Linked DNA regions of Homo sapiens: region 2 is linked to region 1. The links come from fine-mapping of genetic effects on gene expression. A gene starts in region 1. The other region holds a variant in brackets. All regions are shown on one strand. Distances are from middle to middle.

What was found. PIP is the estimated chance that this variant, and not a neighbour inherited with it, causes the effect. A credible set is the group of variants that fine-mapping cannot tell apart.
Region 2: its variant is the best candidate, but not a certain one, in a credible set for the expression of PDIA6 in whole blood (TOPMed, PIP 0.84).

The regions. Positions count from the first base shown.
Region 1 is chr2:10,810,838-10,815,345 of GRCh38, reverse strand. It overlaps PDIA6 (protein disulfide isomerase family A member 6), which reads left to right and starts at 2,561. Exons shown (of 13, transcript NM_005742.4): 1 at 2,561-2,668. The coding sequence starts at 2,650. RefSeq lists a silencer at 2,259-3,008 and an enhancer at 3,499-3,558.
Region 2 is chr2:10,773,644-10,777,643 of GRCh38, reverse strand. It overlaps ATP6V1C2 (ATPase H+ transporting V1 subunit C2), which reads right to left. Exons shown (of 14, transcript NM_001039362.2): 9 at 2,764-2,856; 10 at 2,573-2,666; 11 at 1-59. Among named protein-coding and RNA genes, the nearest start is that of PDIA6, 37 kb to the left of the region's middle. The variant GT/T (reference allele first, on the strand shown) is at 1,971.

The sequences.
Region 1 (4,508 bases):
CGTGCCTCTCTGTTGGCTGTGTGCTCCCTGGGGCCAGTGACTGTGCCTGAGACAGTTGCTCGTATAATTAGGTTGTTAATGTGCATTTGGTTTTAATGAAAAAAGAAATGAGCAACACGCCCTGGTGCATTTCCGGAAGCCTGTGCATTTCCAGAAGGCTGTGCATTTCCAGAAGCCTGTGCATTTCCGGAGGCCTGTGCATTTCCAGAAGCCTGTGCATTTCCAGAAGCCTGTGCATTTCCAGAAGCCTGTGCATTTCCCGAAGCCTGTGCCTGTACAGTGGGCTTCACAGGGGTGTGTGCCTCGTGCAGCTGCGCATTCAGCCCACGGTCCAGAGCAGCCAGTGACCTGGGATATTTAGCAGGGAGTTATGATCTGGCCTCTGTTTTCTCCACGAGGATCAGCCCTGAGGCCAACTGGGACAGAGACCACACAGCACACAAAGGGCACTGGCAGTGTGGGCCACCGCAGTTCGAGGGTTCTGTTCCAAGCAGGATTGCTACCCAAACACAGCAGGCCTGGAGAGGCTGCGATCAACTCACAACCCTGAGAAAACAAACTCGATCGTGAGTGCGTTGTGGAAGCTGTGATGTCTGTGGCCCATGGGGACAAAGTTAACTGTCTTAATGTAAAGACAAATGAAGGGGCCCTCTTCTGGTAAGAGAATTAAATTCCTCCATCCAGGGAGGAAAAGCATGACTTTCCAGGCTGAGAGGAAAAGGAAGGACTTCGCTGTAATCCAGTCAGCAACAGCAGCAAATTTAAGGGGGGAAATGTGTCAAATGCAGGAAAGGGGTCAGAAAAACAAACAGCATTCATTGCCCCTCAGGCGCCCTTCAGGGAAAGCAGACAGGCCTGGAGGAACAGGCTCGCAGTCCACTGCCCTTTGCTGTGAATCCCAAACAGCCCTGCGATCACCGGTTGGGCTTCCCACGCACCTTCACATTCAGGAGGAGCTGCCCGGGGTACCAAGCTGAGGATTTCTGTCCCGGGACAAGCAGCCTCCCTGGGGAAAATCAATGCTGGCATGTGGCTTCCAGGAGAGGCCCCCGTGACTTCAGAGGGCTGCTGTGCCTCTGAGTTCAGTTTGCCTGAAAAATCTTCCAAACGCAGCTCTAGTGCCACTTCCTCCAGGAAGCCCACCAGCCGGCCCCCACCACTCCTGGACCCCTGCCTAAGAATACTTATGCCTTACACACTACAATATGGAGAAATTACTAATACAAAAACAAAATGTCCGAGTCCACTCCAAACATAGGAGGGAGAATCAAGGCGGAAAGATACAGTGGTCTTAACTTGTGCTTGAAAGATTTTACTTTTAGGTCGGGCGTGGTGGCTCACAACTGTAATCCTAGCATTTTGGGAGGCCGAAGCAGGCGGATCACCTGAGGTCGGGAGTTCGAGACCAGCCTGGCCAATATGGAGAAACCCTGTCTCTGCTAAAAATACAAAAATTAGCCGGGCGTGGTGACATGCACCTGTCATCCCAGCTTCTCGGGAAGCTGAGGCAAGAGAAACCCTGTCTCTGCTAAAAATACAAAAATTAGCCGGGCGTGGTGACATGCACCTGTCATCCCAGCTTCTCGGGAAGCTGAGGCAAGAGAATCGCTTGAACCCGGGAGGCAGAGGTTGCAGTGAGCCAAGACCCCGCCTTTGCACTCCAGCCTGGGCAACAAGGGCAAAACTCCATCTCAAAAAAAAGCAAAAAAATTTTTACTTTTGCCGGGCGTGGTGGCCCATGCCTGTGATCCCAGCACTTTGGGAGGCCGAGGCAGGAGGCTCACTGCAGCCCAGGAGTTCAAGGCTGCAGTGAACTGTATCATGCCACTGCTCGCCAGCCTGCCCCACAAACATATTTTTTTTCACTTTTGCATATTTTACAAAGCACACACCCACGTGAGCGCATTGCCAGCCCCCTCGCCCCCCAGGACAAAGTGGAGACCCTGTCAGCGAGGAGGCTACCGCTTAAGTCCCTGGGGTTCTCCAGAGAAGGAGGAGAAGGCTCTGCAGAGCCATGCGCCCTGGACGGAAGAACTTTCAAAAGTAATTCAACAAAATAGAAACTTGTCGAATTACATTGCAGACAGCGCGTGCGGAGCAAATGTGTGTCCACGGAATATTCGTCGGGCACAAGAGGAATTCCCTGTCAGCTCCCAGGACCGTGGGTGCCCTGAGGCCGAGTCACGCTCCCCCGGGATAAAGAGGGTGGGGGCGCACACAGGCAAGGAGGAGGCGGGGTGGGGGGGTGCAGAATAAGGAACTAAGGTAAAAACGCCCAGTACTGGACTCCCCTCCGAGCAGCACCCCGAGAGGGCCCGGAGGAGCTGAGGCGGTGCGAGCCGAGACTGCCAGCCCCGCCCCCAGCAGGCCCCGCCTTCCGCTGCTCGCCACCGCCCCCGTGAAAAAAAACCAAACCGGTAACCTCTACCCGGCCGCCTCCCATTGGATATGTGAGTGAGCGATGTCCGCCCGGACCAATGAGCCGCAGCCACGGCTTGGCGAGCGCCTTCCGGCCCGCCCCCGCGCGGCCGCCCCTCGGACCACCGGACTGGCCTGGGGCGGGACGTGGGCGCGGGGGCGCGGCGTGCGGCACGCTGCAGGGCTGAAGCGGCGGCGGCGGTGGGGACTGCACGTAGCCCGGCGCTCGGCATGGCTCTCCTGGTGCTCGGTAGGTGCGGGCCAGCGGAGGGAGGCGGGCGAGCTGGGGTCGGCCTGAAAGGTTTCGAATCTCTAGGCCGTTCCCCGGCGGGCCGCGGCCGCAGGCGGCCGGAAGTGGGCCTGGCGGGCGGGAGGCGCGGGCCTCGGCGTCCGGAGGAGCTGCTAGGTTGCCCCGGCGGAGGTGCGGGTGCGCGGGAGACTCGGGCGCCCGTGGGGAGGGGCTTCCGCAGCCGCGGGGGGCGGGAGCCTCGTGCGCTGGAGCCGGGCGCGGGGTCCAGGGCCGGGCGGGAGAGCCGCGGAGCCCAGCCCCGGCCGGATCCCGGGGAGGGGGTCTGTATTCCCGGAGAGTCGCAGGGGAGCTTGTTCCGGGCTCTTCTCGAACTCGTGCGTGGGGACGGAGGTTGGCGGGCGTCCTGCACTGCTGCTTGTTTCTGCCACCTGCTTTATGCAGCTCCTACTTTTAAAAACTGAAATGTTAAGCCGGGCGCGGTGGCTCACACCTGTAATCCCAGCACTTTGGAAGGCCGAAGCGGGTGGATCATCTGAGGTCAGGAGTTCGAGACCAGCCTGACCAACATGGCGAAACCCCGTCTCTACTAAAAATACAAAATTAGTCGGGCGTGGTGTCGCGCGCCAGTGATCCCAGCTACTCAGAAGGCTGAGGCAGGAGAATCTCCTGAACCCCCAGGAGGCGGAGGTTGCAGTGAGCCGAGATCGCGCCACTCCAGCCTGGGCAACAAGAGTGAAACTCTGTCTCAGAAACGAAAAACTGAAATGTTAAATCTCAGTCCTGAAATAAGGACCCATAGTTCCCTTAGAAAGGGACAGTGCCTTCCAAAAGCTGGGCTTAAGACGCAGGGGCGCTTCGCATGTGATCGGACTCCTTAAAAACGAAATGGAACGCGGCGTCTTAGGAATTCTGTAAATGTCTGCTTCTTAGTGGGCGAGGCCGAGGGTCCTGTCCTTGCCGGGCTCGCCTTGGTCACAGCCTTGGCTCTGACAGTCCTTAACCTCGGCTCTGGCCTCAGACCACCTTCCCCCTATTTACTGGCTCTGTGACTTGGAGCAAGTTACTTAACCACTCTGTGCCAGTGCCTTTTCAACGGTGTTCACCATTTTAGGGACTGATAATAGTACTCCCTTAGGGTTGTCCTGAGGATTAATGAGTTAGTACATGTCTTTCTGTTTTTTGAGACACGGTCTTGCTCTGTCTCCTAGGCTGGAGTGCAGGGTTTCCATCATAGTTCACTGCAGCCTGGAACTCCTGGTCTCAAGGGATCCAGGCACATGCCACCACACCTGGCTAATTTTTAAATTTTTTGTAGAGTCAGGGTCTCATTGTATTGCTCAGGTTGGTCTCAAACTCCTGGCCTCGAGTGATCCTCCTTCCTCAACCTCCCAAAATCCTGGGATTACAAGTGTCAGTCACCTGGCCCAGCTAGTACATGTTTTAAAGAGATGTAAATATTTGCCATATTACTGTGGAGAGAGTAGATGAGGGGAAAAGAGTTTAGTCTGTTTAGTTTCCTGTGAGTGAATTCAGACTAGACCCTGAAAGAGTCCGTGAGTCTATTAATTAACTCATTTTAATAAATGGCAGCCTTTCTGGGAAACCTCATGGTTTCTAGATGACTGCTCTGGGACTGTAGACTCCTCCTAGCAGATGTGGGACAGAGATGTTACTGATGTGAATTTATAGCATCCTTAACTGCCATGGAGGAATGGAAAACCACAGATGGCAGAGCCATCTGCTCACAGAGATTCTAGACACTCACTCGGATGGTCCAATTTCCCATTGGTGTTCATTATCACTGAGTGGAATGGTGATGTGAATTTTAGAAACAGAACGT
Region 2 (4,000 bases), 37 kb after region 1:
TTAACCTTGTGGTCCGGGAAGGTGGATGATCCCTTTTTAAGAGCAACACAGGAAGTTTGCTAAAGGCACAGAAATGATTTATTAATCTTTCAGCAAACATGCATCACAAACAAATAAATCATTCTCATCGCCTGAAAGGCACGCGAGAGCAAGCTCAGGAATTCAGGCCCACCCTCGGGACTCGCGTGCTGGCTAGACTAGAGATGTGGTAGGTGCCCACCGGGCTCCTGGAGTGGTGAAGGCAGAGAGAAGGGCAGTGTTAAGGTCTTTGGGTTCCATATTCCAAGCACAGAGCCGATCTCTGGCAGAGGGGTCAGCCCTGAGCTCCCTCCCCTTGCTTGGGCTCAGCCAGGACCCCCATCGCAGGCCGACCAGGACAGCACCGGGAGGCGTTAGTGGAAACGGCTCTCTGCGCTCTGTCAAGGTGGCTCCACCATGCCCAGCCACAGATGCCTTCCTGGCATTCGGGGGGCACCTCGGCATGCAGAGTGCAGGAGATGAGTTGGGCATGCAGTTAGGACACTCACCCTTTCCCATTCTGTCTCTGCAAACAGGTGGGAAACACAGGGACATCCCACTCTGCTCTCAAAGTACACTCAAACCCCAGGGCCTGGTCTGTCCCTCTGGTTGATGAGTGACAAAAAGGATGCAAGACGTTTGGTCATGCACTTCTAGATAGGCCAGAGGGGGCCAGATTCTCAGGAGGCCAGTGGGACTACCCAAGCTGAGAGTGCCTCCACCTCCCGCCCACAGAGAGACCCTGGCAGGGCCCCCAGGGTGGTGTGGGCGAAGGCTACGCCATGTAAAATACGCCAGCTGGCAACCTGAGCCCCACGTGGCAGGCGGCAGGCTCCTGTGTGTCACCCTGTTCCCCGGGGGTCTGGCAGGCCTGGGCCAGTGCCCAGGTGGGTGCCAAAGGCCCTGCTTCGCCACCTGTCCCCCAGCAGGGCCTCCCTGGTGTGGAGGCTGCCACGGTCTAGCCCCGTCCAGAGATACTGCGCAGGGGGTTGGGACCAGGACTGAATCGAGCTGGGAAAAAGCCTGGCTGAAGAGAACAGCCAGGGCGTGCCCAGGTAGCGAGGGTTTCAGGTGAGCTGAGCCTAAGGAAGAAAACACTTTGGAGCTCAGCTTTCACTGGGGAAAATCTTTCCTGCCTGGTGTCTGGGTCTGTGGGCCCTGCTCTGAAGACTGGAGCATCCAAAGGGCTGGGGGTCCCCAGCTCCAGCTCGGCTCCTCGTCCTCAGGAGGCGACACCCTCCCCGCAGGCTCAGCCGGAGCCCAGCAGCGTCTGGCTCTGAGGTGTGTCTCACTTGCTGTGCACACACAGGTCCACACACACACTCATACATGCACGTGCGCGCGCACACACACACACACGTGTGTGAGCGCCCTGTGCTATTTCGGAGGAGGAGGGTGAAAAACCCCCTATATAAACTTGTATATTATCAGCTGTTGTTTCCTCCCTAAAGGGAAACAGACCAGACCAGAGGGGCTCCGAGAACCCCACTACGGGGGCTCCGTGGCTGGGCTCGCTTGTGACGGGGTGGCTGCTCATCCCCAGTCCCTGCAAAAAGGTCGCTGACAGACAGGCCAGGTCCCCAGGAGCCCGGAGCACACACTTGGCAGCACGGACACTGGGAGCACTCCCAGCCTGCCCGCGGCCACGGCGCTCCTCCCCATGGGAGTCCTCACAGTGCTGTGTTCACACAGTGACTTTCCCCCAAAGGCCTCAAGAACTTTCTACTCATTCCTCCTGCCCTGTCACTAGAGGCTGGACTGGAAGGTGCTCACGGAACCCTCCCTGGTGGGCATGAGGAAGAAGGGTCCCAAAAACATTCCACCCAGACAGGCTCCTTCCAAGTTGCCCAGCCTAGCCCAGCATCGCAGCAGGAGAACCTGAGTATGGAAGGTGCCCACTTCCCGGAGCGGTGGAGGGACCTTCCCAAAGCTCTCCTGCTCACAATTCAAAC[GT/T]GAGCATCTAGTTTTGCTCCCTGGTGAGCTACGCTGTCCTCCTCCGTGAAGGGTTTCTGAGTGGCTGTGGTCGGAAGTCTCCAGATAAGCACCCTCTCCGCACTAAGGACACGGGAGGTAAATACAGGGGCTAGTGGCGCCCTGGAAACCTCACGGCTGCAATCTCCAAGGCCCAGCACTGCCCACCCTGCACACAGATGCTCCCGCCTGGAGCCCACGTGCCTTGCTCAGTCCAAGGAAGGCCTGGCAGGGTCCTCTGGCCAGCTTGCCTCTCAGAGCCTCAGTTTCTCCATACTGTGGAGCTAGCAACCCCTTCCTGGCAGGGCGGTGCTCAGGACCAGTGAGAACACATGTGGAAAGCGCCAGCTTGGGTGGGCCCCCGGCTCCCGCCCCCAGCTCCACCGCCTGGGCTCCTTTGTGCTCACCGCCCCTCCCCCCAGACCCTGCTCAGGCGTCCCATGAGAACAGACGGTCCCCATGGTGTGAGCCCAGGAGCCTGGGGACAATGAGAGGGAGGAGGGAGAGCTGGAGACCTGGGAGGACTCTTCTATCCCCAGGCCTCCGGGTAGGGGCGGGAGGAGCTGCTCAATCACATACTCACATACTGTTGCTTCTTATCAGACAGCAATCTGGCCATCTCCTCCCTTTCCCTTTCAATTTCCTTCTCATCATAGTAAAATTCACGAACAGTGAACCTTAAAACAAGCAAATCATGGGTTTTCACTCAGAAGCTTTCCAGAGGGGCAGAGACCCCCCGCAGCGGGAGATGAACCAAACCTGGAGGACCCTTACTTGTTTTCTTTGGCCTTGGTTTTGAAATCTTCAATCACTTTTCGAAACAGAGTCACAGTGAAAAGGCCCCCTTCCTTGTCCTCAGTAATGAGTCTGTTGGAGAGAAGCATCTGTTGGCTGGACTCACTGCTAGGCCTTGTGCGGGAGTGGGGCTCAGAGGCCCCGGGCCTGGTGGCCTGCACCTGGGGTCCATGGCAGCAGCTGAGGGCTGGGGAACCAAGGACACTCCCTGAGATTTCCTAACTCCTGGCTGCCTGCCCTTCCCTCCTGCCCCTTCCACACCCCTCCAGGCTAAGGCCTCAGGGGGCCTCGGGGTGCAGGGAGTGTAGGGGCCTGGGCTTTAGCTCCCGCTTATCAAATTCCTGAGAGACCAAGCCCTCCTGGGCCTCCGTCACCACAGCTGGCACAGGGTGTCCCTGGCTCTGACGTGCTGCCTGATAGTAAAGCAGAGTGGTGGAAACTATCCTACAAGGTCCATTTCACTTCCAATATCACAAAGTCCTAATGGGACACAGCCTCCCAAGCAAGTCTCAACACAGGACCACTGGGGCCACTGTCTCTAGCAACTCAGGAATTCTTGGGGCCAGGAGTCTAAGCATCTCTGAGTCCTATTGGCCAGAAGACTGGAAGTGGGAGCCCTCAGGCCCAGACACGATCTCACAGCATGCTGGCATGCTGGCAGGGTCACCCTTCCTGTTTCTCAGAGCCCATGCCCATAGGGGCTGCCGCCAGACTCCAGGTATTTCCAGAGTCATCTGTGCAGGCTTTCAGGTGGCCTGTGACAATGAAGGGCCTGAGGCTCTGGTCTGGGAGGCCAGGCCACCTACCAAGGCAGCCGGCCCTGTCAAGGATCCCCGGCTCTTGGCCTTTAAGAGCAGTGAATGCTCCTGCCAGCACACTGGCTTCAAGGGCCAGCTCCTCTGCTCCAGAGCCTTGCTCCTCTTCCCTGCCTCCCCTGTAACCTCGGGCTGTGATTGTCCTGTTCCTTGCACCCTTCAATTTAGATCCCGATTGCCATCTCGTAGCCCTGGGAGATCCCCGTCCCCCAGCAGGGGCCCCAGGGCAGAGGCCTTGCACCGGGAGTTCTGTGTGTGGGGAGTCAGATGAACAGGCTGGCTGCCTGACGCGCATTCTAAAACCTCTTCAAATTACAAACCTTCTCGGCCATACAAAAAGGTACAGAGGAAAATGAGTACCAAGCTGGGTGTGGTGGCTCACACGTGTAATCCTAGCACTT